Linked DNA regions of Homo sapiens: region 2 is linked to region 1. The links come from fine-mapping of genetic effects on plasma protein levels. A gene starts in region 1. The other region holds a variant in brackets. All regions are shown on one strand. Distances are between the middles of the regions.

Region 1 (15,543 bases):
TTGGCCTTGTTTGGCATCTCCTCCAAGGAGGGCAGGATGGCCATCTTTGACTCCTGGCTGTCATCTTAGCATCATCAGTGAAAACACACCTATTTCCTACTAATTCCAATGAAAGCCCTAGAATTGAGCCACACTGGCCTGACTTGGGTCATGTGCCCATCCTGAACCAATGACTGTGGCCAGGAGAATCATATGCTTGTTGGGCAGGCTGGGGTCATTTGTCCAGCTTGGGAGGCACCTGCCTTCCTGCATCATATGGGCTGAGGGAGGGCAGGAGGGGGCTCCTCACAGGAAAATCAGAGCATGTTTAGTGGAAGAAAAAGTAAAGAATACTGGGCAGGCAAAAACCTCAGGTCTCTGCTCCATTTATTATGTGCTGATATTTACTCATCTGAACATTTGCCTTTGTGCAAATGAAAGGGTGCCCCATGAATGGCTTGTGTCAGGTGAATAAACCCAGTCTTCATAAGAATAAAAATATAATGTATCACCTTTTGTAATTTTCCTACAACCTTTGTACACACCACAAGTAGGGGGATTGTATATGACTATTGAATTTGAGTTCAATAAAAGATTTGTACCTCCTGAATTACACTTCCACACACAAGATAGGATACATTAACTTAATTACTGTTGGATTCAATAACATAGGCCATTGCCCTGGGAATTTATTTTGTGTTATACTCAGAGAGAAAAACGGCATCATTTCTAAAGGCAGTCAATTTCCAATTATCCATGCTAATGGAAGAACACAGCATGTGGAGACTCTAAATACAGTTTCTGTTTGGTTTAGGGAGTGGACATGATTTTTTATTTATCTACCTGAGTTATTTGTCTTGCTTGGGCTTAGGAAACATAAAAAAGAGTTTGCATTATCTGGGTCTATACTTTCTTTCTTCTTTTTCCCTTGGTTTACAAAATGTGAAGTGTATTTTATTATTTGGATTAAAAAATTTTCATTTTGAACTAATTTTAGACTTATGTAATAGTTGCACAAATAGTGTAGTTTCCTTATATCCCTCACTCAGCTTAGCTTAATGTTAACATCATATATAACCATAGTACAAAGCCAGAAACTAACACTGGTACGACACTATAAACTACAGACTTTATTTGAATTTCACCCATTTTCTACCAATGCTCCTTTTCTGTTCCATAATCCCACATTTAGTTGTTATTTCACTTTAGTCTCCTCCAATTTTCAACTGTTTCTCAGTTTGTCTTATTTTTTATGATCTTGACACTTTTGAAGAATACTGATCAGTTATTTTGCGGAATGCCTCCAGTTTGGGTTTGTCTGATGTTTTCTCATGCTTGGAATGAGCTATGCATTTTTGGCAGGAACGCCAAGGAAGTATCCTCTGTGAATGGTATCAAGAGGTTCATGATGTCAGCATGTCTTATTATTGGTGATTTTGATGTTCATCCCTTGGTTAAGGTGGTTTCTGCAAGGTTTCTTCACAATAAAGTTACTATCCTTCCTTTTATAATTAACAAATATCTTGGGGGAAATACTTTGAGACCATGCAAATCTTACGTTTCTTCAAACCGTCACCTGCTAATTTTACCATCCATTGATAGATCTTGTCTGCAACAATTACTGTAGTGTTTGCCTAATGATGATTTTCTATTTCCCTTTTTCCTTCTACGTTTATTAATTAGAAGTCTACTGTAAGGAGGAACTGTCCTTTCTTCCCTATTTGTATGTTTATTTATTCTGTAGGTTAAATCCGATACTATCATTATTTTTTTTCCAAAATTTTTCTAGCTCTGACCATTAGGAGCTCCTTCAGCTTGGACTCTATTATTTATTTATTCAATAGACTTTACTTATTTAGAGCAGTTTTAGGTTAACAGCAACATTGAGCAGAAGGCATTGATACTTCCCACCTACTCCCTGGTCCCCCCCACATGCACAGACTCCCCTATTATCGACATCCCCTACCAGAGTGGTACATTTGTTACAATTGATGAATCTACATTGACATCAACTAAAATCCATAGGCATTGTGTTTCAGTGGGTGCAGTACATTCTATGGGTTTAGACAAAGTCTAATGACATGTATCCCTCATTATAGTATCATACAAAGTAGTTTCTCTGCCCTAAAATGCTCTGTGCTCTGCTTATTCTTACCTCTCCACCCCCTATTTCCTGGACATCACTGATCTGTTTACTGTTTCTGTAGATTTGCCTTTTCCAGGGTATCATATAGTTGAAATGTCGTGCAGTCTGTAGCCTTGTTTCAGCCTGGCTTCTTTTGCTTAGTAATATGCGTTTAAGCTTCCTCCATGTCTCTTCACAGCTTGATAGTTCATTGCTTTTCAGCACTGAATAATATTCCATTGTTTGGACATACCACAGTTTATTTATCTAGACCTTATTCTTTTGACAAATCCACATCCTTTGTGAGCATTTTCTGACTTTCTATCACCACAAAGTGTTCCAGCTTTATCTCATATTTTTCCTGCTCTAGCACTGAAATCAAGCACTTTTCAAGGAACCCTAGTTCTTTTAATTGAATAGTGCTTAGAATAGAACAGTGCTTTGAAATCAAGACCTAGGCACTAGGTATGCTCGTAGATACTGGGTTGCATTTGTTCTAGACCCTCTCCGTAGAGCTAGGAAATATATGTATTTTACTAATCTGTACATATATACCATCTATATTTCTTGCACCATGGTTTGATGAAAGGAGTGGCCATGGTTGCAGAGATAAAAACTATGTATGGTCCCAACAATATGGGTTTCCTTACCCTAAGGCTAATTTAGCTACTGCCACAGCCCAATGTTCCACCTGCCAGAAACCGACCATTGCTGAGCCTTTGTGTATCAGACCTCTTCCAACTTGGAATGGGCAATGTTTCATTCTGACTGGGATTGATACATATTCAGGGGTCAGATTTGCCTTTCCTGCCCACAGTGTCTCAGCCAGCACCACTATGCTAGGGACCAAATCAGTGTCTGATCTACTGGCATGGGATACCACATTACATTGCCTTTTATGGCAAAGAAGTTATGGCAGAGAGAACATTCATGAGATCCACTGATCCTTTTAAAAACTATACCATACGGAAGTTGCTGGCCTGATTAAGGATTGGAACAGCCTGTTGAAGGTATAGCTGAGGTACTAGTTTAGAGATGATATTCTGCAAGGATGGGGCAACATCCTTTAGGCTGAATAGACACCTTAAACCAATAGACATTAGATGGTGCTGTGTCCCTAGTAGACAGAATACATGAGTCAGAGAATCAAGGGGTGGAAGAAAGAGCACCCCTGCTCATCCTCATACCCCTCCACCCAGGCAGCCAACAGCCAATGCCATGGGGAAACAAAAGACCAGCCCCTCAAAGGGCACCAAGAAGGGGTATGACTCTGTGTTCCTGAGCTCCCTGGGGACACGATGGAAGTGGTCTCTAGCAGAGACCACACCTTTGCTTGGCTTTCTTCCCCTGAACTTGTCTGCTTCCCTTGCTCTCCTTCTTGGAGTGTGCTCTCAATCAATCACTTCCTCAAGAATCCTTGTTTCAGGCTCTGCTTCTAGAGAGATGGTGCTGATTGGGAATTTTTATTCAATTAATGTCATACTTCCCATCTCTTAAATATTCTCAAATAATAAGATTTCTAATGGCCACACGATGTTCTATTATGTGAATATAGTTTATTGAACCAATCTGATTCTAGACATTTAGGTTATTCCTGAGCTTTCACTATTATAAATAATTCAGAGAAGAACATAATTGTTGCTAAGCCTTTGTAAACATTCTTAATTATCTTTTCAGGTTAAATTCTTATGGGTGAAGTTACAAAGTCACTGGTCACAAACATTTTGTGGCTCTTAACATAAATATCAAGAACCTTGGCCTCTAAGAGGACTGTACCAGTTTATGATCCCACAAAGAAAGCAACTTTTTTTCATTTTTGCCAACCCAGAGAATAATGATTTTTAGAAGTATCTGCAAATTTTATCGGTGACTTATTATCTTAATGTGTTTTACTTTGGTTACTTGGCAGTTTGGTTATTTGTAGTTCTTTGGTGAATTGTGTATTCAAGACTTTTGCCCATTTTCCCATTGATGTATTTTCCTCATTAATTTCTTTTTCTTTTCTTTTCTTTTTTTTTTTGAGACAGAGTCTCACTCTGTCACCCAGGCTGGAGTGCAGTGGTGTGATCTCGGCTCACTACAATTGAGTTCAAGCAGCTCTCCTGCCTCAGCCTCCCTAGTAGCTGAGACTACAGGCATGGGCTAATTTTTTGTATTTTTAGTAGAGACAAAGTTTCACCATGTTGGCCAGGCTGCTCTTGAACTCCTGAACTTATGCGATCTGCACACCTCAGCCTCCCAAAGTGTTGGGATTACAGGCGTGAGCCTGGCCCCTCATTAATTTCTTTGAGCCTTTTTTTTTTTTTTTTTTTTTTGTAATTGATTGAAAGTACAGGGAACTTTCAATTGTAGATGTAAAGGGCACCATACAGCTTTTCACAGAGTGCAACGACAGGGTAGAAGTACCATGGCCCTGTCCCTTCATTTCACAAGAGAAGAAACTGAGTCCTAGGAACATCCAGGAAAATCTGGCATTGATTGGGCCAGGCCTCATGACTCCCAACAGAGTTCTTGCTCCACCATCTTTGTCAGAAGTGAGGGCTAAGAGCTGACAGAATAACAGACACTACTGCCAATCCAACATTAATCATGCACTTAGTATATGTCATATTTGGTGCAAAGCACTCTGTGTATATGATCTAATCTTCTCAAAACCCTGATAGATATGTGCTATTATGACTACCACTTTACAAAAAAGGAAACTGAGGCACAGAGAGGGTGAAAAACGTGTAGAGGTCATCTATGCTAGGAACCCTTTGGAAGAAGGAAAAGAACATTCCCCACGGTTGTGCCCTAACATAGTCACAGCTTGTCCCTGGTGCGGTTCTTTTCCTCTTCCCTTCCCCGCTGCTAAAGTCATTCTGTGCACCCAATTCTGTAACTTGCTTTTCTTTCACTCTATGTTTCATGTTGCTTCGTGGATTTTATAGCCATCATTTTAATGCCCTGCATAATATTCCTTTGTTGAGCAGATGCTAAATTCTTGAATTTAGTGTACTCCCACTGAAGATGTTGGGAGAATTTCTGGGGACCCCTGCTGTCTCCCCTGCAGTTCCCCCTGGCTTGATAATTCCCTTTTCACTTCATGCCTTGAGTGAAATGATACAAATTTAACTTGCAAATTGCCTAAGGATGTCTTTCATAGTTGGAGGCATCTGTAAATTATATGCAAATATGTGTGCAGCCAGGGGAATTCTTCCAATGCTTTGACCTTAAGAAAAATCTAGTGGAGATGAGTGTGTAAATGGTTAAAATTTCTTCTCTGAGCCTCAGTTTCTCAGTCTATAAAGGGGTGAACTAACCTGCTTGTGTGAGCTGCATGTGTGAGACTTTAAGGAGAAATTACATGGTATAGAATTATGAAATCCTATCAATTTAAGGGGTACAAGTACAGTTTTATTTCATGTATATATTGTATAGTGGTGAAGTCTGGGCTTTTAGTGTAACCGTCACCTGATTAGTGTACCTTGTACCCATTAAATAATTTCTCATCCCTTATGCTCCTCCCACTCTTCTAAATCTCCAGTGGCTATTGTTCCACACTCTATGTCCATGTGTACACACTGTTTATCTCCCAACCGTAAGTGAGAATATGCAGTTCTTGACTTTCTGCTTTTGAGTTGTTTCACTTAAGATCATGGCCTCCATTTCCATCCATGTTGCTTCAAAAGACATGATTTTATTCCTTTTTATGGCTGAAGAGTATTCCATTGTGTGTGTGTGTTTGCACCACATTTTCTTTAATCGTCTATTGGTGAACACTCAGGTTGATTCCATATCTTTGCTTGAACAGACATTTCTCTAAAGAAGGCCTACAAATGTCCAACAGATGTATGAAAAGATGCTCAATATCACCAGTCATCAGGGAAATGCAAATGAAAATCACAAGGAGATATCATCCCACACCTGTCAAAATGGCTATTATAAAAAAACAAAAAAGACAAGCGTTGGTGAGGATGAGGAGAAACTGAAACCCTTGTACACTGTTGGTGGGAATGCAAAATGGTGTAGCCGCTATGGAAAACAGCATAGAGATTTCTCAGAAAACTAAAAATAGAACTACCATATGATCCAGCATTCCACTTCTGAGTGTTTATCCAAGAGAACTGAAATCAGGATCTCAAAGAGATATTAGCCTTCCTGTGTTCATTGAAGCTTTATTCACAAGATGTGGAAATAACCTAATGTTCATGGATAAGTAAATAGATAAAGAAAATGTGACATATATATATATATATATATATATATATATATATATATATATATATATGATGGAATATTATCCAGCCTTTAAAAAGAAGGAAATCCTGCAATATGTGACAATATGGATGAACCTGGGGGATACTGAGCTAGTCACAGAAGTACAAACACTGCATGATTCTTATATGAGCTATCTAAAATAGTCAAACTCATGGAAGCAGAGAGTGGAATGGCAGTTGCAAAGGGGCAGGTGGAAGGGGGAGTTGGAAGTTGCTAATCAACAGGTATAACATTTCAATTATGCAAGATGAATAAATTCTAGAAATCTGTACAACATTGGGCCCATAAATGACCATATTTAAGCATTTTACACTTAAAAATCTGTTAAGGGAGTACATTTCACGTTAAAAGTTTTTAGCATAAATAATAATAATAATGATAATAATACTGATGCGTTTCTAGTATTGTTCATTTCTGGGTGCTTGAGCATGTTCAATTTAGTGTGCAGAACCTTGCTGACTCATCTGTATTCCATTTTGGAAGTTTTGTTAGGAAATACTCACAGGAAGTATGGTTTTGGTTCATGCTAGCTCAGTGGGTGGTTTTGGAACTCCTTTTGAGTTCCAGTAAGATGGGGCTTCTCAGGGGGTGCTGCAAACGAGTTGGGTTCATTTCGTTGTGTTTCCCGGGCCCTTCTGGATGTGTGGGACTCCTCCAGCTCCAGTTTTGCTCTCTGGTTTCCATCCCAGCTTGAAAGCTGTTTGGAGCGCTTGTTCCTCAAGGAACTCCATTTTGCTCCCAGTCCTGGGATCCTCGGTGAGCTGGAGCCTCTTTCGGGACCCTCGTCCTGTGGGCTCACTCTCTGTTGACTCAGCAGTCACCATCTTCTATTCCCCAAGGCATGAGCCCGCATTGCACCCACACTGTGCAGTCCTTCTAAAGGCAGCCATCTGGCACTGACCCTGAGAGGAAAGGAGGGCCCTGCCAGCCTATCCCAGAGCTTTGTAGCCTGCGTGGAGCCTGATGCCAACATGCGGTTGCATTTCTCTTTGTAAATGAATACAAAGCTAATAAGAAAAGGAAAAAGAACCTGGATTGCCTTTCTGAGCAAGGAAAAGAAAATTGTCTTCAAGTCTCAGAGGGCTTGTTATTCAGCCAACAGAGATCAGGTGTGTACATATTTTCCATCAGACTATGAAGTGCGTAAGTCTTGGACATCAAGGGAAATGCTGTGGGTTCCATGGGCTGTGGCAGCGCTGTGCCTGAGTGCTGTAGTGGGTCATAGTGGGAGCTTTGACGTCAAGTAGTCCCTGGCTCTTCTTCCATTTACTCAATGAGTGATCTGGGATAAAGGATCTCTCAACTCTGGGACTCAGGCTTTTGTTTTTAACATGAGGCTTCTCACAGCGCCTATTTCATGGGGGATTATCAGGAGGATTACATCAGATAACACACAGGACTGTGGTGTCTGACATGCTGTAAGTGCTCATGCATGTCAGCCCATGTTGTTGGTAGTTTTGTGGCCCTCATGATTTTTTCCTCTGTAGTCAGGACTTGGGCATCCTCTTCTCTGTTTCTGAGTAGTTGCTTTGCCATTAGAGTTTTCTGGTGTTTACTTTCATATTGTTGTGAGGTATTCATTTGCTTAAAATCATTTCCTCCTAAAGTGGGTTGTCCATACACCATGGCTCTGCATAGGGGGAAGAAAGCAAGAAGGCATGTGTGTGTGTGTGTGTGTGTGTGTGTGTGTGTGTGTTGGTGGGGGTGGGGGCGGGTGGGGGAAACGGCTGTGAGGGACGCAGGGAGATGGAGTGAGCCTGGCTCTACTGAATACATATAATCAATGGGTGAAATCGACGTGTTCGCAAAAGTTACAGGCCCTGCTGGGTGAGCTGCTTTCAGTGGTGTCAAGAAATGCATCTGTTTCATTACTCCTCTTCTTGGGATAAGGAATTATTCCAACATCACCTTCAAACCACAGCAGAAGAGCCTGGGAGTGGGAAGGTCATGTCATTCCCTCACAGTCCCTACTTTCTATCCAAGGGGTGTTTGGGGGTTAAAATATTCAACATAAACCTTGGAGCTTCTTTGCTTCAAAGAAGGGAAGGAAACAAATGCAATTGAGCTATGAGTATTTATTAATTCACTCAATATTTATTGTGCACTTATGTCCCTTTTTTCAGCACTATGGGTTCAGCAGCAAATGAGACAGACACAAACCCGGACCCTGCCTTTGTGCCGCTGAATGTCAGGTGGGAGAATGACATCAAGCAATTGTGCAGTTGTGATGAGTGCAAAGTTGTGAGGGTCAGGGGTGACTTTTCTGAGGACTTGCAGAAGCTGTGGCCAGAAGGGTGAGTGGGGCTGTCTCCAGGAGAAGAGGGGACAGGGAGGAGAGCGTCTCAGCAGGAGCGAGCCCTGCAGGAAAGGGCCTGAGTGGAGGGGGCAGGATGCTGGTGACCAGAGCAGGAGGGGCAGGAACATCCAGGACAGAAGGATCTAGAGGCCCCTGGGCTTAGCAGGATGTACCAGGAGTCATGGTGCAGTGCCTGGCCTTTGTCCTGAGGGCACAGGAAGGGAAGTAAGTAGAGAAAAGTGATCATATTTACCTTCAGAGAGGACCACTTTGGCTCCTGTGTGGATAATGAATAACCATGGGTGAACTGAGAGAGGGAGACCCTTATAAGGGCTCTGTGGTGTGCAGGTGACATGTGGTGGGAAGTAGATTCTAGAAGTACAGCAGTGGGGAGTGGGTGGAGCTGAAAGGAGTGAAAGAGAGATTGACAGATGAGTGAGTCACTGAAAGTGGGGGCTGAGAAGGAGGGCAGAGTGACACTAGGGTCTTGGTGGGGTGGGAAGTGGTTTCCCCAACATGGGGACACAGGAAAGAGGGTAGGTTTAACAGGGGGGATGCAGCTCAGATGTTCAATTTTGGACACACTGAATTCAGAGAGTGCCAATGAGACAGCACAATGGAGATGCCATGTAGCAGGTAGATATATGAGTTTGCAGCTAAAAATAAATCTGTGCTGATGATAAGGTATTATAGGCACCTCTTTTATTGGATGGAACCTAGTGGGTGATTTGATTCTTGCCAGCATAGCATCATGAACAGGGGTCAGGGAGTACACCTAGAACTTTCTGCAAGTAGGTCCATCTTTCTTTCTCTCTCTGTGACCTTCACCAATTTATCTGCCTTTCTGGGCTCCCCTAGCCTCAGCATAAAATGGTGATAGTTATGTCTACTTCTGACTACCAGTAGCACAGGTTTGAGGATCCATTAAACTGAAAATAAAACATGTGGGGCTCGTAGAAATAAGAACTATGTTAAAACAAGGAGTTATTATAGTTGTGCATAAGCCAATGAAAAGCAGAAATACAGCCCCAAGGCTCAGTATTGATTTTGGTCCTGGGTGCTTCCTGCGGCTGAATAAATCTGCCATTTCTCCCCTCGAGTGCTGGCTGAGCTGATGGCAGGTCTCCAGCTCCCAGCCTCCTTGCCCCTGCTCCAAGGTTATGTCCTTCCTTGGCTCAGGCCAGATCCAGCATGGCCACACCTGCCCCTGCTCCTTTGGTCACCCTTCCCATGCAGGGGATGGTTATGGGGAAGATTCCGGTTGTGAAATTGGAGCATGGCTAGCAGCAGATGCTCTCTGATTAAACTGGGGACAGGTCCCCGAGGAAAGTGGAACTTGGATCTGCAGAACAAGGAATTTAAGGAGGACAAAGGAAATGGCCCTAGACAGGGCTTTCATACTTCAGGATGCATCAAGGGTTATGGAATTTGCTTCATTCATTGAACCACTGGATAAATATTTGTTGAGGGCCCACTGAATGCCAGGTTCTGAGATTAGCTCAGGGATACAGGAGTGAAAAAGACAGTGTTTGCCCTCTTGGAATTAATATTCAAATTGAGGAAGAGAGAGATAATAAACAAAGGAGTAAAACACTCTTGAACGACTGAGCAACCAGATACAACAAGAGAGAATGCTGATGTGGCTGGGAGGGAAGTGTCTATCTTAGAAGGTGTGGTCAGGGAAGGCTTCAATGAGGTGGTGACATTTGAGTGAGACCTGACAGCTAAGAAGGAGTTGCCCTGTGAAAAGCAGGGAAAGGAACACTGTGGGCAGAGAGCCTGGCCAGAAGAGAGGACCTGTGGGGCCCAAGCTTGCTAAGTTTGCAGAACCATGAGAAGAAATCTGGCTAGAACCTAGGGAATGAAGGGCAGAGGTAAGGGACCAGATGGTGCAAAGCTTTGTGAGTCATGGGAGGGAATGTGAATTTTTGTTTTACTGTCATGGCAAGCTATTGAAAGGTTTTATTTAAGGGAGTGATTTCTATTTTAAAAAGATTGCTACATATATACAATGGAGTACTATTCAGCCATAAAAAGAATGAGATCCTGTCATTTGCAACAACATGGATGGAACTGGATATCATTATGTCAAGTGAAATAAGCCAGGTATGGAAAGACGAATGTCACATGTTCTTATTTATTTGTGGGATCTAAAAATCAAAATAATTGAACTTATGGACATAGAGAGTAGAAGGATGGTTACCAGAGGCCAGGAAGGGTAGTGGAGGGTTGCAGGGAGGGTGGGGATGGTTAATGGGTCCAAAAAAAACAGAAAGAATGAATAAGACATAGTATTTGATAGCACAACAGGGTGACTATAGTCAATAAGTTAATTGTACATTTAAAAATAACTAAAAGAATGTAATTGGATGGTTTGTAACACAAAGGATAAACACTTGAGGGGATGGATATCCAATTCTACGTGATGTGATCATTATGCATTGCATGCCTGTATCAAACATCTCATGTACCCCCTAAATACAAACACCCACTATGTACCCACAAAAATTTTAAAAAGAGAAGGCTCTCTTAAAAAAAGATTGCTCTCACCTGAGTGGATAATGGGTTGCAAGGGAAAGGAAAGAAGGAAACCAGCCAAGAAGCACCGTCGTTCTTCACGTGAGAAGTGATGGTCTTGTGGACTCAGGAGTATCTGTGGAAGTGGGGTGAAGTGGGTGGCTCCAGGGGGTGTTCGAAAGTGGGATGGACCCCCTTTGCTGATGGATGGGAGGTGAGGGGCGAGGAGATGGATGAACTGGAGATGACTTGTGGGGTTCTGACTTAAGCAGCCATGTGGATGCGGATACATTCACTCTAACAGGGATGAAAGGAGAACACAGAGGCATGGAGGACATCCAGACTTCTGTTTTGGCCTGGTCACAGATCTGACGTGCCCGTGGGGCATTGAGGAGATGTAAAGTATGAAGCTGGAGGTACAGTCAGAAGTCATTGGAATTTCTGGGCTGGAAATGTACCTGGAGGATCTCAGCATAGGACTGGACTTGGGCACCTGGGGAAAGGGTTTTGGGGGAGAGAAGAGGGATAGGTCTGAGCCCTAAGAAGCACTGGAATGTCAGCAGGAATGATGGGGGGAGCAGGAAAGCCAGGAGGGTTGGAGCCACGGGAGCCAAAAGAAACTGCTCAGAGGCCACACTGGGGAGGATCGAGGGTACCCACTGGATCTGGTGACTTGGAGGAGGCTGCTGATGGTGACAAGTCATTTCAGTTAGTGAGGATGAAAGGCAGATTGGAGTGGGTTGAAGAATGAGTTGGAGGTGAGGAGGCAAAAGTGACATTTAGGGACAACTCCTTGGAGAGATCTTGCTGTCACACTGGGCAGATAAATGGGGAAGTGCTGCTTACTTGGGTTTCTATGAACATAAGAAACAGTCTCTTCATCATTTCTAAACCTCTCTCCCACTCTGATGCACCCACCCACAGCATTCCATGATAAAATAAACCGTGGATGATGTGCAGTCCCCAACATAGTAGCTGTGACTCCATTCCTTTTTCTCCCTTTTGAGAAAGTTTCTAGGAATGCAAATCAGGCAGAGTAATGTTGGGAAAACCACAGATCTGCTGACTTCCACACATTCAACTATTATATGTAACCAAATTATTTGTAGCGCAACTTATTATTGATCACACCATACATTATTGTTGGCATGCTGGCTGAGATGTGTTGTTGTTCCAGACATGGTTGGGTGGCATTCATTCATTAAATCATTCATTCATTTATCAAATTTTTTTGAGCACTAACAATGTGTCAACTCTGGGCACTGGGAGAAGTGGTGAACAAGACAAAGATAGCCTCTGCCCTCAGGAGCTCTAGCCAGGTGGGGAGGCAGACATAGAGTAAGTGATATCAGTTGAGCTTACAGCCAGAGAAGCACTGTGTTCTCAAAGACAGCATCACTGCAGGTGCTGGCCTGGTCCACAGGTGTAGCAAGAGTCTCTGAAGAAGTGAGGATGAATAAGCAGAGAGCAGAATTAATGAGACTTGTGCTGGGACTGGGTATGGACAGCAGCCCAGGCAGAAGTGAATACCCAGGAGTGGAGGGAGCCCATTTCCACTGGGGTCAGGGCCAGCCCGTCCAGAAGGTCAGAGGAGGAGAGAGTGGGGTGAGAGGCGGGGTCCAGATGTGCGGGGCCTGGGGGCTCCAGCCAGGAGATTGGTCTTTATCAGGAAAGCATTGTGAAGAATTTTGTGTTGAGGGGAGAGGGGTGATGGGATGGTCAGACTTGTTCTGAAAGAGCGCTCAGGTGTCTGGGGAATGGGGTGTAGTTGTACAGAGAAAGGTGACAGGCCAGTATCACTTGTATACAGGCAGGGGAAGACATTAAGTCCCTTCCAGCCCTATTTCACCAAACATTGCTGGTATTTGGAAACGGGGTGGGGGATGGGGCAGGACCAGACTTCTGCTTCTCAGTGTTCTGTCCCTGTAGCCTGATCTGTTTTTCCTCTCTCCCCTCCCTCCCATCTAGGGGAACTCAACAGGTTAGTGCTGGGGCCGGTTCTCAAGGGGCAGGACAGTGGTAAGCATGGCATAGGGCATGGGAGTGCAGAGATGCAGGTGGGTGCATGACTTGGGATGGGCAGTGCAGATATTCACTTATCCAGGGAATGGCAGGACGGTGGTTATCAAACTTTGCCATGCATAAAAAACGCCTCGGGAGCTCATTAAAAGTGCAGACTTGGAAGCTTTCCTAAGGAATGCTGACTCAGCAAGTGGGGCGGTGGGGCAGGAATCATTTTTAGGAAGTTCGCTTCTCTCTCCACCCAGGTGATTTTGATCTAGATAACCCGACGGCCTTCCTTTTGAGAATGCCTCCATGCTGGCCTGCGTCTTGGCCTCATATCCTCAGTCCCCTCTTCTGTCTCGCACCAGCCTGGGCCTGAAAGCTGATTTTAGCCCTGCATTAAGATGTGAATGACCCAGGACATAGGCGTGGGCAAGGACTTCATGTCCAAAACACCAAAAGCAATGGCAACAAAAGCCAAAATTGACAAATGGGATCTAATTAAACTAAAGAGCTTCTGCACAGCAAAAGAAACTACCATCAGAGTGAACAGGCAACCTACAACATGGGAGAAAATTTTCGCAACCTACTCATCTGACAAAGGGCTAATATCCAGAATCTACAATGAACTCAAACAAATTTACAAGAAAAAAACAAACAACCCCATCAAAAAGTGGGCGAAGGACATGAACAGACACTTCTCAAAAGAAGACATTTATGCAGCCAAAAAATACATGAAAAAATGCTCATCATCACTGGCCATCAGAGCAATGCAAATCAAAACCACTATGAGATATCATCTCACACCAGTTAGAATGGCAATCATTAAAAAGTCAGGAAACAACAGGTGCTGGAGAGGATGTGGAGAAATAGGAACACTTTTACACTGTTGGTGGGACTGTAAACTAGTTCAACCATTGTGGAAGTCAGTGTGGCGATTCCTCAGGGATCTAGAACTAGAAATACCATTTGACCCAGCCATCCCATTACTGGGTATATACCCAAAGGACTATAAATCATGCTGCTATAAAGCCACATGCACACGTATGTGTATTGCGGCATTATTCACAATAGCAAAGACTTGGAACCAACCCAAATGTCCATCAATGATAGACTGGATTAAGAAAATGTGGCACATATACACCATGGAATACTATGCAGCCATAAAAAAGGATGAGTTCATGTCCTTTGTAGGGACGTGGATGAAATTGGAAACCATCATTCTCAGTAAACTATCGCAAGAACAAAAAACCAAACACCGCATATTCTCACTCATAGGTGGGAATTGAACAATGAGATCACATGGACACAGGAAGGGGAATATCACACTCTGGGGACTGTGGTGGGGTGGGGGGAGTGGGGAGGGATAGCATTGGGAGATATACCTAATGCTAGATGACGAGTTAGTGGGTGCAGCGCACCAGCATGGCACATGTATACATATGTAACTAACCTGCACAATGTGCACATGTACCCTAAAACTTAAAGTATAATTAAAAAAAAAAATAGAAGTAAATTAAAAAAAAAAAAAAAAAAAAAAAAGATGTGAATGACCACGTTCCGGGCTGGGGCGGCCGGGCTGTCGGGCAGGCAGCGCGCGGCCACCAGGGGGCGCCAGAGCCTTGGCTCGCGCGCTCGGCCTCCTCCGCCCGCGGACGCCGCGCCCGAGCCAGCGAGCGAGCAGAGCACATCGCTGCGGGCTCACAAAGCGGCCAGACGCTCGGCGGCGGCGTGTGGCAGGAGCGCAGGGGCGCGAGCCGGCGATCAGCCTTCCCGGCGACCGTGCCGCGGGAGCTCGAGCAACTCGGACTAGGGGACCCGGGCCGGCCCCCAAGGTACGTGCCCAGAGGAACCCCGCGCCCCAACTTGGAGTAGTTGGGACCTCCCCGCGGCCGCCTAGGGGGCTGGCAGGGTCAGGGCCTGGGGTTACCTCCGCGCGCCTTTCTTACCCCCGAGACCTCAGGGCGCTCAAGGGAGACCTTTCCCTTAGCTGTCGCCGGGGACCCCCAGCTGCTGGCAGCCCCCACCCCGCTTGCCGGAGCTCGGGTGCTGCTGGAGCCCTGTTCTCCCCTCTCCTGCCCCAAAGCCGTGTGCACCGCACCGTCTGTGGGAGTGCGGCGTGCGGACCCGGGCTCCCCGCTTCTGGGGAGGGGTACCAAGCCCCTGATAGGAGGGCGGCATCTGTGGGGCACTCGGAGAATAGACGAGACGGGTCCCCTGTAGTTGGACGGCAGCCTCGGATTCGTGACGCAGCCTCCTCGTTCGTAGATGAGTCCCCCATTCGTGAGAGGGGTCCCTGGGTCTAGAGGCGCGACAGGCGCCCCAGGTGCGCGAGCGCTGCCCGTGCCCGCCGCGGGGTCCC
Region 2 (16,502 bases), 57 kb before region 1:
TATTATTATTATTATTTTTGAGACAGAGACTTGCTCTGTCACCCAGGCTGGAGTGTGGTGGTGTGATCTCGGCTTATTGCAACCTCCGCCTCCCAGGTTCAAGTGATTCTTCTGCCTCAGCCTCCTGAGTAGCTGGGATTACAGGAGACTGCCACCACACCCAGCTAATTTTTGTATTTTTTTAGTAGAGACGGGGTTTCACCATGTTGGTCAGGCTGGTCTCAAATTCCTGACCTCAAATGATCCGCCTGCCTTGGCCTCCCAAAGTGTTGGAATTACAGGCGTGAGCCACTGTGCCCAGCCTGTCTTTGCCTTATTGCTCTTTCTGTGTCTAGTCCCTCAGTCTCTAGCCAAGGCACAGACAGTACCTCCGGCCAATCACAAGGGCTTCATTCATGACCTTGGTAGCATTTTTCTCTCATCTCTCTACCCGCTTTCTGTCTCCATCTGGGGAGTTCAGCATCACTTCAATGACTCAAGCAGGAGGGGAAGAAACCTCCGGAATCTTTCTTTAAAGGAAGGCTTTTTTTTTGGGCTTCCTGCTCCCCTAGATGCAAAAATAGCAGAACAGATGTAACTAATGCTTTAAGAGAAAATTTCCTTTGAGCTGATATCAAACATGAATGTTGGGCCCTGATGGGGATGTTCAGAAAGTTCTAGGTTGGAAAACACTCCATTTTATCTCATTTAAGGATGGGTGCTCTGTGGGCTGTCTCTTATCAGCAGGATTTGTGGGGACTTTGTGGTGCTAGAGGCTCAGATGAGGGGTGGGAGCAGTCAAGCTACAACCTTCCTCTGCATATCCCTCCTGGGCTACGTTCTGGGGATAAAAGAAGAGTAACAGGCAGCACCTGCTGTGAGGACACTTGTGGTGAGTGAGTGGCACCACCAGCCACCGTGAGCCACCTCCTACAGCCCCTCCCCACCTGGGCCACCCTGGCCCCCTTGCTGTTCCTGCCATACCCACCACTGCCTTAGGGGTTTTATTTCTGCTCTTCCCTCTGCTTGGAATAGTCCTCCCCCAGATCTTCACAAATGTCTCTGCTCACATGCCACCCTTCCTGCAGGTGGTCTTTTCTGACCACCAAGATACATTTTTCTTCCAACTTTTTAAAATTTGAGCCAGGGTCTTGCTCTGTTGCCCAGGCTGGAGTGCAGTGGTGTGTCCCTGGTTCACTACAGCCTCAAACTCCCGGGCTCAAGCAATCTTCTCACTTCAGCCTCCTCAGTAGCTAAGACTAAGGGTACATGCCACCATGCCTGGTTAATTAAAAAATTTTTTTTTTTTGTAGAAATGAGATAACACTATGTTACCCAGGCTGGTCTGGAACTCCTCCTAGCTTCCCAAAGTGTTGGGATCACAGGTGTGAGCCACCATGCCCAGCCTCTTCCCAAACTTTTTCTCTCTCATCTTGCTTTAATTTTCTTTAATTGCCCTGGCCCCTACCTGAAATAATCCATTTGTTAGTTTTTGGTGGCCTTTTCCCTCAACTAGAGGGCGAGTTCCATGAAGGCAGGGACCATGTCTGTCCAGGTCTGCCTCGTTCACTGCTGTGTCCCTTGTGCTGGAACATGTGCACGTGCAGTGCATGTGGCATGAGGCAACTGGTGCTGAATAAATATTTCTTTAATGAATGGGTGGTAGATGTGGGTGTCACTGATGCATTGACACATTCATTCTGCATTCAACCATGTGTGAAACACCCTGCTTGCTGGTGAAGGAGGTTTAGGAAGCTTGGTTCACGTCCTGGAGCTTTTGTGGGAGACAGCCACTTGCGGTGTGACACCACATGGTTTTGTACCCAAGTATCTTCCCCTGGGGCTGTGATATGGTTTGGTTCTGGGTCCCCACCCAAATCTCATCTCAAATTGTAATCCCCGTAACCTCCATGTGTCAAGGGAGGGACCTGGTGGTAGGTGATTAGATCATGGGGGTGGTTTCCCCCATGCTGTTCTTGCGATAGTGAGTGAGTTCTCATGAGACCTGATGGTTTTATAAGTGTTTGACAGTTCCTCCATCACATGCTCTCTCTCACCTGCCACCATGTAAGACGTGCCTACTTTCCCTTCCGCCATGATTGTAAGTTTCCTGACGCCTCCCTAGACATGCGGAACTGTGAGTCAATTAAATCTCTTTTCTTTATAAATTACCCAGTCTCAGGCAGCTCTTTATAGCAGTGTGAAAATGAACTCATACAGGCTGAGACTTTGCTCAGAAGGCACCCTACTTCCCTTGGGGCTTCCAGATGGGTTTTAGTGGTTTGTCCTGGGGGACTGACAATAGGGGTCCAGGTCCATGCTGAAATCAATACGTAAGTTCTGTCCGAATAGGCACTGTGGTTTTGTAAGCACATGTACCACCAGGCTCAGATCTGGGACTCAGCTGTGCCCCACTCCTTGCTCCTGCAGCCTATGTCACAGCCTCCTTCCCGTGTGTTCTCAATGCCTCCCTCCTCTGCACTGAGGCTGAAATCTCCACTTCCTTTCTTTGTTTCCTCTGTCATCCTTTCAGCTGGATTTTAGGCTGATAGGAGTTTCAGGTCATAAACTCAGAGGTGTATTGTGTCTCATTTTCTGTAAATCTGAGTCCCTATCCTACCAGGCTGGCAGAAACTTGGGCTCAGTCATTCTTGAGTACTGCCTCTCCTCAGGCAGTGCCAAGGGCTTGGGAAGGCTCTGCCATTGGCCACTGAGCTGCCGTCTTTCCAGCCACATGGTCCCCTAGGTCCGAGTTCTGCTGTTTCTTCCCACACTAGGGCCTTGAGCCTCCTGTCCAGTCTGCCTACTGCGTAGGGATGGTTATTCCCACTGCACACTTACACCATGTGTGTTTACAAAGAGAAACAGGAGGCCTTGTCCCTGCCCTCAGAGATCAACCTGTGTAGCTGCAAGTCACAAAGCTCCACATGTAAAAAGGACAGGCAGTAGATCATGTGTTAAAAAGACCAAAGATGGCCAGGTGAGGTGGCTCATGCCTGTAATCCCAGCACTTTAGGAGGCCGAGGCAGGCAGATCACGAGGTCAGGAGATCAAGACCATCCTGGCCAACATGGTGAAACCCCGTCTCTACTAAAAATACAAAAATTAGCTGGGCATGGTGGCGCGTGTCTATAATCCCAGCTACTTGGAAGGCTGAGGCAGGAGAATCGCTTGAACCCAGGAGGTGGAGGTTCAGTGAGTTGAGTCGCGCCACTGCACTCCAGCCTGGTGACAGAGTGAGACTCCGTCTCAAAAAAAAAAAAAAAAAAAAAAAGACCAAAGACTCCAGCAGTTGGGAGGAAAGCAAGGGTGGGGAGGGTTGGAGAGATGCTGGACGGCTCCTTGCAGGGAGAAAATGGTAAACCTGCATTTGGAGAGTGGGCTGACTTGAGGGTTTTTGTGTGGGGGTTGGGGAGTTTTGTATGAGGGATGGAGAGAACTTAATCCCCATCCCCCATACAAAACCCAGCCATCCAGCTCCGCAGCCAATATGAGGTGAATTTGCTGAAAGAAAGAACCAACGTGACCTATTGAACTCTGAAGAACTTGAAAAGTGTGCTTGGCTATTTCTGCATCAGTATTCTCCCCCCTGCTGCCAGCCAGGCCTGACAAAGTTGGGTTTGAGATGCTGCATCTCTGGATGGCTTTGCCTCTCTTTAAAACAGTGTGTGGCTTTGAAATGTAATATAACAAGTTCGCCTGTCACAGGCCTGAGCAGTTCCTCAGCTGTCGCCCCCAGCTCTGCTTCTGCTGCAAAGGGGCCACATTAGAATCCAACCCCGGAGAAAATGAATCTGGAGTTTGTGGAAGACGGCAGGTGCTTTTTATAGCTTTCAATGGATTTTGAGTGGTGCACAGAACTGACAAACCACCTCTCGAGGCAACAGCTCCTCTGGACACAGTGTTTTGAAAAGGATTCATTTCCACTTAAATGATGGCATTTTAAGTATTTTTTTCCACATTCTGTACCCCCTGTCTTCCTTTTTCTTTTCTGTAGGAAGAGTGTAATGTGAATTAAAATTGCCTGGGAAAGTCTAGGCATAAATATTAAAATGTTTGGATGCTGGTTAAAGGAAATTTATGTTTACAATTTCCCTCTGTTGCAGAAGCTTGCTTTTATTTTTAGCGGAGGTTCTTATCCCTGACTTCAGAAGATGTTCTTCTTGGTGTTTCTCCCTCTTTCTCTATAATCCCTCTGTCCTGTTCTGCCACATCTCTGTGTCTGGTGGTCTTGGGAACAAGTGCCCATCATCTACAAAGCAGGGGAGCAACATTCTAATGGCCATAGGGCCTGTAAGTAAGCAAATATTGGAAAGGGAAGCTGCTGCACCTCCAGCTGACGGTCATCACAAGGACACAGAGCTGAGGGTAGGGGGAGGCCTCTGAGTTTTCATCCAGATTGTAAGGTGAAATTTCTTGAATTTTAAATGTAGGTAACTAAAAAACAACCCCACTATGTGGCTGAATAAAACACACTCATCAGATCCAGTCCTGAGGCTACCAGTTGGCAGCCTCTGCCATAGATGCATTAGGCCAGTTATGGCAACTTATCACACAGCGATAAGCCCAAATTACCCGCCAGCATAAGGAGTTCTCTCGGCGCTTGCAGACCTGCTTGGCCGGCAGCTGCCTCTTTAGGGACAGTTTTAGTTTGAAAGAGTAACCTTGTGGCATAGAAGAAAGAGCCTCAGCTCTCGTACTTTTGTTCAAGTTCTGCAACTTCCGGGGCCAAGTGACCTTGAGCAAATTTCTTGAACCTCATGGGTCTTATTCCTCTAATCTTTTAAATAAGAAAAATTATATCTGAATTACCTACTAGGTTTTGTTCGAGGCAAAAAGGATCACATCAGTAACCATGACTGGAAAAGTGCCGATACCAATTGCTGTTCTTGTTTTGTGTGGCCAGCATGTGGTGGGAAGGAACTGTGAACTTGAAAAGATGCCTACTCCATGCCTGTCCAAGTTCCCGCCTGGTTCTTAGTTCTGGCCTAACCCCTAGGGAAGTGAGGCTTTCTGTCTGTAGCAACATGATTTCCCAAAGCCATCCTGGCACAGACCACAGAAGGCAGAGCAGGGACGGGCAGGCAGGAAGCAGGAGCACCTCGGATCCTGCCCCACCTCACAAGGCTCTGTGGCTCAGAGTATCTTGAAGAACTGCGTCTTTACCAGTTTGTTTAAATAGAACATTTAAACACAGAAACATGATTTAGGATAGTGTTTCCCAAACTGCTGTTCTAAGGCATACTACTCTCTAGGAAGTTGAAGGAGAGGAGAACAGGATTTCATACTCAGCTAAGCTGGGAAACATCGCATTAAAATTAAACAGGTTTCTTTCTTGCAGGATGGTGAGTTCTTTTTTTTCTTACGCGAATGCATACTGTGAGGTAAGAGTTCACTGTATTTTCAAACTTTTACTTACAAGCTCTCATTGGCATTTCATTAAGAGGCAGTTTGTGTAATGTTGACCTAGGTTAGCTCATGCATTTCTTCTCTCCACAGAATTTTGTTGCATGCCACTTGAGTACTGGGGGATAAATGAGCCAAAGCAGACCTAGTCTTGGGTCTGCCCTCCTCACATTGACAGTCTAGTGGGGGAGGCAAGCAATAAACCAAGTAAGCACAAACTTAGTGTAGAGTCATGGCAGGAGAAAGCCTGTGTGGGAGAGGAGTGTGGCGCTCTGGGGGATCTGCCCCTCTGTGTGGGTGTCCTGGAGGGAGGGAACACTTTGAAGGATGCAGAGGCCTGAGCCAACCAGGAGAGGCCAGAGCCAGGAGGTGTGGGTGGACAGAAGCCTGTGTGGCCAGAGCCCTGGGAGTGAGGGCTGGGGATGTGCGTGGGAGGCTGGAGAGACAGCAGGGCTTGGCCACAGGAAGGATTTTGGCATTTATCCTGGGGGTAGTGGGATATCCAGAATCTCTCTTTGGAGGGAGAGGGGAGGCAGAGCAAGAGCACTGTTTTTGTTTGGATTTTGGGGTGGCTTGTCAGGGAACTGATGGAGATTATGGGGGAGGCACTAAAGCCTCCCTAAGCCATGACTTGGTGTGGCCATTGGCTGACATCTTTGGGCTGCTGGGGTGACTGGGGAATGTCTGCACAAGAGATGCCCCCTTTTTGCTGCCCCAGCTGCAGGATGCCTTTACAGATGGAGCACATAGATGACAAATAAGCACTGGCTGTCTAGAGCAGCACTGAATGTTTTGCTCTGTCTTATTACGTGACCTGTGGGTACAGTCAGCTTTCCACGCAGAGGTACTGTTTCCCGGGAAGGATGCTCCTGCCTGCTGGGAAACTAGCACTGGGGCAGCCAGGTCACAGTATGGTTTTTCTTGCCCCTGTTTGCTCTGGAATCAAGAATGTGTTGATTGTGTCTCCCTGAGGACTAATATCCCCCTGAATTTCATGTTACTCAGCCAGTGCAGCATGGAATGCCCTCCATGTGTTCAAACTTCATTCCAAAAATATTTATTGAATGTCTTGCCAAGCATGGGAGATAGGAGAATGAACAAGATGGGCAAGATCCCTGCTCTTACCCAGCTCTTCTGCTAGTGGGAGAGAGACCATGAAACAAGATTGTCAAAGTTGAAGGGTTTGGGCCCCTACCTAGTTCAGGGGGCTTCAGGGAAGGCTTCCAGAGGAAATGCTATCTAGGGTGAATAATGAGTATGCACTAGCCAGGTGAAATGAGGGGTGAGAGAAGAGTGCCCGGAGAAAAAGGAAGAACAGACAGTTCTAGAGGTGAGAGAATGGGGCTTGTGCAAGAGTGAGGGTAGGCTGGGTGCGGAGGCTCACGCCTGTAATCCCAGCACTTTGGGAGGCCAAGGCAGGTGGGTTATCTGAGGTCAGTAGTTTGAGACCAGCCTGACCAACATGGTGAAACCCTGTCTCTATTAAAAATACAAAAAAATTAGCCGGGCATGGTGGCGGGAGCCTGTAATCCCAGCTACTCGGGAGGCTGAGGCAGAAGAATTGCTTGAACCTGGGAGGCAGAGGTTGCAGTGAGCCAAGATTATGCCACTGCATTCCAACCTGGGTGGCAGAGCAAGACTGTCTCAAAAAAAAAAAATGTAAAGAGGGATTCAGTGTGGCTGCAGCATGGGTGCAGGGTGAGGTGAGGAAACTTTGTAAGATTTCCACTTTCCTTGCTCTCCTGGAGAATGTGTGGGGGCGTCCTGAGTAGTCTTGGTGGCAATTGTCCAGTGCAGTCATCCTGAGCACACTAAGTCCTATTCACAGCAAACTAAGATGTACTTCTCAGCCCACTGCACTCACAGGTCAAGTAACAAGACAGAGCAAAACATTCAGTACTGCTCTAAACAGCCATTGTTTGTCATTCTATGTGCTCCATCTGTAAAGGCCTCCTGCAACTGGGGCAGCAAAGAGGCGGCTCCCTTGTGCAGACGTTCCCCAGCCGCCCCAGCAGCCCAAAGATGTCAGGCAATATAACAATGTCAGGCAATACGGCCTATATGAGGGGGGTGTGACACTGCTGATGTCAGAAGTCACAGGAAGTAATTATTGCAAACTCTTAGAGCATACTTACTGCTAAGAAGCCTTTGTATGGATGTCCTGAGCCCTGCACCCATGAATTGACGTAACTGTAACGACAAGGGACGGCTTTTTGTCATTTAACGAAAGGAATGGGGGATAGCAGAGATATATCGGCTGCAGTGACCTTTCACGGTAAGCAGAGAAATGCCAGTGTTGAAACAATTATCTCAAGTGCCCGCGGGTACCAGCTTCCTGTTGATAACATGTGGTGCTAATTACATTGAAGAATTTAGGGCAGATATTGTGTCTAGAATTAATTGGCCTGCAGAAAGGCTGAGCCTGGCTCAGGACCAGAAGCAAAGATGTCAGCCTCTTTCAGCGCCAAATGTGTGGGGCAGCTTCGCCTTCTGGCTTCCTCCTCTCGTGACTTGGGATGAGGTTCCTCTCTCCTCCAGTCACTGTGCTTTATTGCACTCTCTTAACCTTTTCAGTGAACCAAAAATTTGACTGGTCAACCACTCACCCCTTCTTCTGTTTATAGTCTTCCAGACCTGCAGGGGAGGAATCAGTGGCCAGTTAATCAAAATACTCTGTGTGGAAAAGGTCAGCATGGTGGGGTCCCTGCAATATATTTCCCTAGAATGGGAGGTGTTAGCATTCTGCCTCTGCATGCCTTTCCGTATTACCCAAGTCGAACCCTGTAGTCAGGAAATTGCATCAGTCTTGTGGGTTCCTGATGGCTATGATTTTAATGAGAGAGGAACGGTGCCAAGTCTGATCAAGTTGTTCTTTCCTCCTACTGGACCACTGTTATTGGGAAAGGTGGGCA[G/C]TGGTGCTGGGAGATGCTCAATGATTTCCCTGCTGTGAGCACCCAGTCCCTCCTCTGGACTCTCTTCTTTCATAACAGCTAATTACAAGTGTAAGTGCTGATGACAATATTAATTAGCCTTCAGCTGGGCTGCTTTGCGCCAGGCCCTGTGCCAAGCATTTCACATGCATTGTCTCAGGGAATCTCTGTTACAGCCTTGTGAGTTTATTATGCTTCTTTGTGAGACAGGGAAACAGAAGCCCAGAAAGTGTAACTAACATGCTCAGGCCACCCAGCTAGTAAGCAGGAGCCAGGACTTGAACTCAGAGTTTGACTCCAGAGTCACTTTGTTTCAGTCGCCTATCCCCACCAGATCCTGAATTCCATAAGGACAGGGATGGCGGCATGCTGTTTTGTTCGCCCTGTGCCTTCGCTCCTAATATAAGCCAAATACAAAGGGTGGGGGTGCTCACAAGGCACTTGCTAAGTAAATAAATGAACTTAACACCCAAACCTTGTATGAGTGTGAGAGCAGGAGAAGCAGTCTGGAATCAGGTTCACACTCTTTCACCCGCTTTTGTGTGTTTTACAGATAGGGTCTGGAGGGATGGCGTGAGGGCCCAGGCATAGTGCTGGTGAGTGGTTTGCTGTTCTTAAAGAATCCAGTGGGCTGGGAGTGGTGGTTCACGCCTGTAATCCCAGCACTTTGGGAGGCCAAGGCGGGCGGATCATGAGGTCAGGGATTTGAGACCAGCCTGGCCAACATGGTGAAACCCTGTCTCTATTAAAAATACATAAATTAGCCGGGTGTGGTGGCACGCACCTGTAGTCCCAGCTACTTGGGAGGCTGACACAGGAGAATCGCTTGAACCCAGGAGGCAGAGGTTGCAGTGAGTCTAGACTGTGCCATTGCATGCTAGCCTGGGCCATAGAACAAGACTCCATCTCAAAAAAAAAAAAAGAAAAAAAAGAAAAATCCAGTGAAAGCTGCTGTGGTTGTCAAGGTAAACTCACTTCTGAGAAATAAAGACATTGTTGCCATTGAAGGTAATTGTGGGCCATTTGGTATCATTTTTTATTTTCCCAAATCTTTAGCATTGAAAACTCTAATCCGTAATAGTCAGCTAACTGAAAATAGAAGAAAACTCTAGACATCTTCATTTACCTTTCAGTCCTTTAGAGACTTAGAGAATTTTGTTCTCCAAGTGAGTGCTGGGATGGGGTGGGGGCAGGGTGCACCTGCAAGTGTCTGCATTACTGAACTTGGCACATTGATTTTCTGCAGTGAACGTCTCTTATTTTTATCATAGAAAGCTATTTCATTTAGAAAAATTTAAATTATATAAACAAAACAGAAAGACAAGAAGAGTATAGTAAATTAAAGTCCCTCAAAAACCCACAACCCAGAGCTAACCAGTAGATAATTTGGTGAACATCTTTCCAGCATTCATGTGTATATAAAATACAATTTTAAAGAGAGTAAAATACTGTAAATACTGTTTTGCAATCTGCTCCCCTCTTTCCTCATTTAATATACTGTGGAGATCTTTCCATATCAATGGAAATGTGATATGAATATGACACTATATTATTCTTTTTAATGGCTGTATAGGACACTATTGTGTGGCTGTTTCATGATTAATCCATCCCTTATAATGTACATTTATCCACATTCATGTGGCACTATAATTATCCATTTAATCATTTGTCTCTCCCTCTATGCTGTGAGCTCATTGAAAACAGGGACACAGCTAAACCCATGGGCATACAATAGGTGTCCTATAAATGTTTGCATGTATAGATGGATGGATGAGTGAGTGAGAAGGAGAGGAAGAGGCTTTGTTTTGTCATTGCTGTGGATGGTTTCTGACTCAACCTGTCTGAGTGACAGCCTATTAACCCAGGGCTGCAGGAGGCATTTTGGTGATTATATAGCTGGAGGGCCCTTGTTCTTTTGGTGCCATGAGTTTAAATCCTAGTGCCATGAGGAAGTATTTCTGACACCAATCAGATTAATTCCTGATCTTCCTGAAGGGAAGTCCTTGGTTTCTTGACCCTGTGGGTTACTTTCCATGCAGCTGTAGCCTCTCTTCTGCTCATCTCTTTCAAAGGCACATTGGCTGTGCAGGGGAAAATGCCTCTTACACATTTCAGGAAACTGGAATTGGCTTTTTGTGGGGAGTTGAGGGACAGTGTCAGGGATAATGGCTATTCCTCTCTCTCTCTCTCTCTCTCTCTCTCTCATGTTTTAGAATTCTGAGCTGGATGCTTGACCCCATTCCAGGGGTGCAGAATGTGCTGAAAAGTAAAAAGAAAAGAAAACCTCCAAGCTCACTAAGTGAAAATAAAATTAACATCCTAGAGGCCTGCTTCTGGGGACAGTGAAAGGTAGAGTCAAGCTGGGATTCTTAACCTGGGACACAGTAGTGGGAGGCACACAGATGGCCTTCACAGGGTCCATAGCTATTGCTAGATTCTCACAGTGTTTTGAGACTCCAAATATGTTTAGAGCCTCTGTTTATAAAGGAAAAGCAAAGTAAGTACCCGAACCTCATTTTCCTTATCTATAAAATGGAGCAATAGCTACTATCTTACAGAATTGGGTGAGGATTGATAAAATACGATATTTAGAGTGCATGATTCAGGGGCATGGGAAATGGCTGCTATTACTGATGCTTACGGGGTAATGCAGCATGACTTTCTTTGCTCCATGGGTGACTGTCTAGTCCAGCATCGCTGTGCGTGAGTGTGTGTGCGTGTAATGGGCTACAACCAGAGATGTGCTTTAGCAGTTGCTGTGGTCTAAATGTTTGTGGCCTCCCCCCGCCCCCCACCCCAGTTCATATGCTGAAACCTAATTCCCAGTGTAGTGTTATTAGGAACTGAGACCTTGGGGAGGTGATTAAGTCATGAGGGTGGAGCCCTCATGAATGGAATTACTGCCCTGATAAAAGAGGGCCGGGAGCTTGGTTGCCCTTTCTGCTGTGTGGGAACAGATGGAAGATACCATCAATGAAGAACCGTCACCAGGCACCGAATCTGCTGGCACCTTGATCTTGGACTTCCCCAGCCTCCGGAACTGTGAGCAATACATTTCTGTTGTTTACCTATTACTCAGTCTAGGGTATTTTGCTACAGCAGCCCAAATGGATTAAGACAGCAGCCTTGCTCTGACAGAGTGTTGGTCCCATGGACCAGAGAGAGACAGAGAGAAAGATTGGAGCCCAGGTAGAGGTTGTCTCATTGTCCCGATGTGAGCCTTGCAGTGCTGAGGATGGAAGAGGACAGAAGAAAAGAGGAAAAGCTCGTTGGGACTTGGTGAATAGAGGTGGAGTTGAGAGAGAGGATCAAGAGAAAAGGGGGTAGTGGTGGAGAGGTTTGCGGGAAGAATTCAGTTTACTCCTATTGGGTTTGAGGAGAGGTAGACTAGTGGAAATCTAGCAAAAATACAGGTCTCAGAAACATAATCACTTTGAACCCCTTTAGTTCTTTATTTGCATGAGTTTTAGTTTAAGGAGATTTCTGGTAGAGGGAGAACCTGGAGCAGAGGGAGAAGGAAGGGTGATGGAAGGAATGCCCTAGTGTCCCAGCCCAGTCCCTAAATGTGATGGTGAAAAGGCTTAAGGAGAGAAGCTGAAGTTGCCATTTTTGCAAAGGACCCCATAAGTTATGGAGTTGCTGAAGGATGCCCTGTCCCATACGACAGAGTGATGCAGAGTCAGGGAAAGGGGATTTTTCACTTGGGTATAGAAGGCAGAATGAATCTGTAAGCACTGGAGGTGTCAGGAGAGGCACATTTTTTTTTTTTTTTTTTTTTTTTGAGATAGAGTCTCACTCTGTTGCCCAGGCTAGAGTGCAGTGGCACAATCTCGGCTCACTGCAACCTCCACCTCCTGGGTTAAAGTGATTCTTCTGCCTCAGCCTCCTGAGTAGCTGGGATAACAGGCGTGAGCCAGCATGCCCAGCTAATTTTTGTATTTTTAGTAGAGATGGGGTTTCACCATGTTGGCCAGGCTGGCCTTGAACTCCTGACCTCAGATGATCCAACCACCTTGGCCTCCCAAAGTGCTGAGATTACTGGTGTGAGCCACCGTGCCCCACCAGGAGAGGCACTTTTGGAGTGGATGTTGGCATATGTTGATGTATTTGTGATGGGTACTGTCAGAAGCAACAGAAATGAGACTCTCTTGTTGAGTGTGGGGGAGAATGTAGATAAGGCAGAGGGAAGACATGGCTGATCCTGCATCGTGATCACAGATGATAGATGGACTTATGAGCCTGTAAGAGACACTCCTTGGGGAATGTTAGGAGATGGAGGATCTCCAAGGACCGGATAAGGCAAGAGTAGGGAATCTGTTTTTAAGGTCAACATGCCTTCATTTCCATCTACAGGCTGGAGAGACCAGGGAATTTTTGGATAATGAAAGTAGCTATCTGAATGTTGGATTCAAGGAAACTCAATTCAAGAGTCTGTGGACTCAACTGATAATTTTTTCCCCAGCTTTCAGTATCAGAGAGATCTTTGGGTCTCTCTCTCTGTCTCTGTCTCTCTCTCTCTCTCTCCCCTCCCTCCTTCTCTCCCTCCCTCCCTCCCTCCCCAACCCTCTCCAGCAAGAATCTGCATCTCAGAGCTGGGTCCTAGCAAAGAAAAGCCAGCAAATCAAAAGAACTAAAGTTCTTGATTAGAATTCCAGTTTTTTCAAGCCCACTACTGAAGACCCATCTCTTGGGACCTCATCACCTCGCAGTTTGCTCTGGTGTGAGTGTTCCTTTGTAAGGTGACTCTGTGCATAGAAATGTCTAGAAGCCCTCTGTTGAGAAGGGGCCGTTCATTTCCCAGCCTACCACATGATGCTTGAGCTCCAGAAGGCCTCCTGGGCAGAGCCGCCTGGTCAACTCTGAGATCCACTGAGTCTGTTTCAACAACTGTCACCAATTTCCAACAACTCAGGGGCTCAACTTTGAGCCTGCGGCTAGATTCTTGGGTCTCCTCTTTCATTCTCTCAGTGTATCCACCTTTTGCTCTCACCCACCCATGAGGCTAGTTCTCACTTTCCATTGTCTTCTGTGATTACTCCCCACCTTCCCCAAAAAGGAATAAGACGTGGTTCCAGGTGGGCAGATTTTTCAACTTTTAGGCCAGAGATGAGGCATGGGCTTGTCAGGTCCCAGTCTCTCTCTCTCTTTTCGTTTTCTTTTTTTTTAAACTTAAAAAAAATTATTTAATTTTTAAATTTTGCGGGTACATACTAGGTATATATATTTATGGGGTACATAAGATGTTTTGATACAAATATGCAATGCATAATAATCACATCATGGAGAATGGGCTATCCATCCCCTCAAGCATTCCTTTGTGTTACACACAATCCAATTATACTCTTTTGGTTATTTAAAAATGTGCAATTAAGTTATTATTGACTATAGTCACCCTGTTGTGCTATCAAATAGTAGGTCTTATTCATTCTTTCTATTTTTTTTTTTGAATCCATCAGCCATCTCCACCCCTATCTCTTTTTGGTCACACCATACCTGGTGCCCAGTGTCTGCTGGGACTCTCACACCTGTCTCCCAGTCCTCCTGGGCAGAACCCCCTGCTCTCACCCTCCTCACCTTTGAACTGATGCCCCATTGCCACAGGGCCCTGGGCTTTGCTGGGTGGCAGTGGATGCTCACATGACCATCTTCTGTTGTAACACCTAATAGATTCCACATCTTCCCTAAACCTCTTTATGGTGTCAAATGCCACCACTTAATGGTAATAGGTTCTACATGCACCTAATGCCGTCAAGGAATTTATTTATTTCACAGAAAAAACTTTTCTACTTTAACAACTTTTTTTGGATGGAGATATTTTAAGATTGTATTATAAACTTCCTTGCCTTTATGATCAGAGTATTGATTATATTAGTAGGAACAATTTTTATTAATCCTGTGGTAAGATATATGTATTTCCCTCCGTCTCAAAATTTGTGTTGCATGGAGCTGGGCTTTTCTAGTTCTGCACCTGCTCATTTTCACTCTCCTTCCACGCCAGTCTGCATTTGGCAGTCACGTCTCATGCCTTGCCCTCTCATTTTTACTTCTTTACTCTTTTAAAAAATGTTGGTGCAGGCTGGGCGTGGTGGCTCATGCCTGTAATCCCAGCACTTTGGGAGGCTGAGGCGGGCAGATCACGAGGTCAGGAGATCGAGACCATCCTAGCTAACACAGTGAAACCCCGTCTCTACCAAAAAAAAAAAAAAAAAAAAAAAAGAAAAAATTAGCCGGGCGTGGTGGCGGGTGCCTGTAGTCCCAGCTACTCGGGAGGCTGAGGCAGGAAAATGGCGTGAACCCAGGAGGCGGAGCTTGCAGTGAGCCAAGATTGCTCCACTGCACTCCAGCCTGGGTGACAGAGCAAGACTCCATCTCAAAAAAAAAAAAAAAAAAAAAAAAATGTTGGTGCAGTGCAGTGGCTCACACCTGTAATCCTAGCACTTTGAGAAGCCGAGGCAGGCAGATCACTTGAGGTCAGGAGTTTGAGACCAGCCTGGCCAACATGGTGAAACTTTGTCTCTACTAAAAATGCAAAAATTAGCCGGGTGTGATGGCGTACTCCTGCAGTCCCAGCTGCCTGGGGGACTGAGGCACGAGAATCTCTTGAACTCAGGAGGCCGAGGTTGCAGTGAGCTGAGATCGCACCACTGCGCTATAGCCTGGGTGACAGAGTGAGACTCTGTCTCAAAAAAAAAAAAAAAGTTTAAAATTTTCTGATTGTATCACGAGGTCAGGAGTTCAAGCCTGACCAAGATGGTGAAACCCCGTCTCTACTAAAAATACAAAAAATTAGCCGGGCGTGGTGGTGGGCACCTGTAATCCCAGCTACTCGGGAGGCTGAGGCAGATAATTGCTTGAACCTGGGAGGCGGAGGTTGCAGTGAGCTGAGATCGTGCCATTGCACTCCAGCCTGGGGAACAGAGAGAAACTCCATCTCAAAAAAAAAAAAAATTTTTTTTCTGATTGTAATAAACAAACTTACCTAGAAAATAGAAAGATACAAACAAATATGGAGAAGAAAATACAAACAAGTATGAAGAATAAGCATTTTTCCATCTAGTTCTCCCCTCCTCCCTTCCTCATTACACATATGTATGAAAATTCAATCATACTGAATATATATTAATATATATTTCATATTATTGAGCTATTTTACAAAATGATTGAATAGAGTTTTATCATAAGATGTACAATTTTAATTTACCTCATCTCTCATGATTTAACATTCAGGCAATTTGAATTTTTAAAACTAATTAAATTTATGATGAATATTTGTGGGTATTTTATCCTTATTTTTAATTTTTTTAAAAGATACATGCTCTGATGTGAGATTAATTGATCACATTCTAGAGTTTTGCTTGTTTTTTTTTAAGCCCAATTTCATCGACCATACCAATTGTTGCTGATAGCAGCATCCCTCCTCTTCTCATACATTGCTTGTGAGAGTTTAAAATGGTATAACCTCTTTAGAAAACAGTTTGGCAGTGTCTTCCAAAGTCGTCTTACCATATGACCCACTCCTAGGTACTAACACAAGAAGAGAGGAAATATATGTCCACAGAAAGACTTTTACATAAATGCTAATAGCAGCTTTACTGTAATAGACAAAAATTAGAAGAAACCCAAATTTCATCATTGGATAAATAAACTGCAATGTATTCATAGAATGGAATACTACTCAGCAATAAAGAGCAATCAACTATTTTTATGTGCAACAACATAGATGAATTCCAAAATCATTTTGCTGCATGAGAGAAACCAGACAAAAAAGGAGAATATACTGTGTGATTCCGTTTATATAAAGCTTGAAAAAATGCAAACTAATCTAGAGTGACAGAAAGCATAGCAATCGTTGTCTAGGGATGGAAGAGTGGGAAGAAGTGGTGGAGAGGGTTTACAACGGGGCTCAAGGAATATTTTGGGTGATGAATATGTTTCCTATCTGGATTGTGGTGATGGTTTCATAGGGGTACATATATATATCAGAATTTATCAAATAATACACTTATGTATAGTTTATTATATGCCAATTATATTTTGATAAAGCTAGTTCTTAAAAAGATATTGTTACACTTGGGCATTCGTTTTCTAGGAAAGTAGTAGTTAATATTCCAACCAGGAGTGTGTAAATCCCTTCTCACCAGATTGATGCTATTAAGTTTTATTATTTTTAAGCATCTGTGATCAATC

Which allele goes with the higher level. Alleles are on the strand shown, and positions count from the first base shown. The strength of an association depends on the size of the effect and on how common the allele is.
As copies of C replace G in region 2, the plasma level of the protein whose gene starts at base 14,869 in region 1 goes down (moderate association).

Evidence for each region. PIP is the chance, under the fine-mapping model, that this variant and not a neighbour inherited with it causes the effect. The UK Biobank Pharma Proteomics Project read protein levels with antibody pairs (Olink). The fine-mapping took linkage between variants from a reference panel, not from the people measured, so its PIPs are less certain.
Region 2: its variant is fine-mapped to the plasma level of the SPOCK1 protein (UK Biobank, PIP above 0.99).

What each region holds. Positions count from the first base shown.
Region 1 is chr5:137,498,652-137,514,194 of GRCh38, reverse strand. It overlaps SPOCK1 (SPARC (osteonectin), cwcv and kazal like domains proteoglycan 1), which reads left to right and starts at 14,869. Exons shown (of 11, transcript NM_004598.4): 1 at 14,869-15,016. RefSeq lists a silencer at 14,699-14,918.
Region 2 is chr5:137,555,452-137,571,953 of GRCh38, reverse strand. No RefSeq gene overlaps it. Among named protein-coding and RNA genes, the nearest start is that of SPOCK1, 64 kb to the right of the region's middle. The variant G/C (reference allele first, on the strand shown) is at 8,298.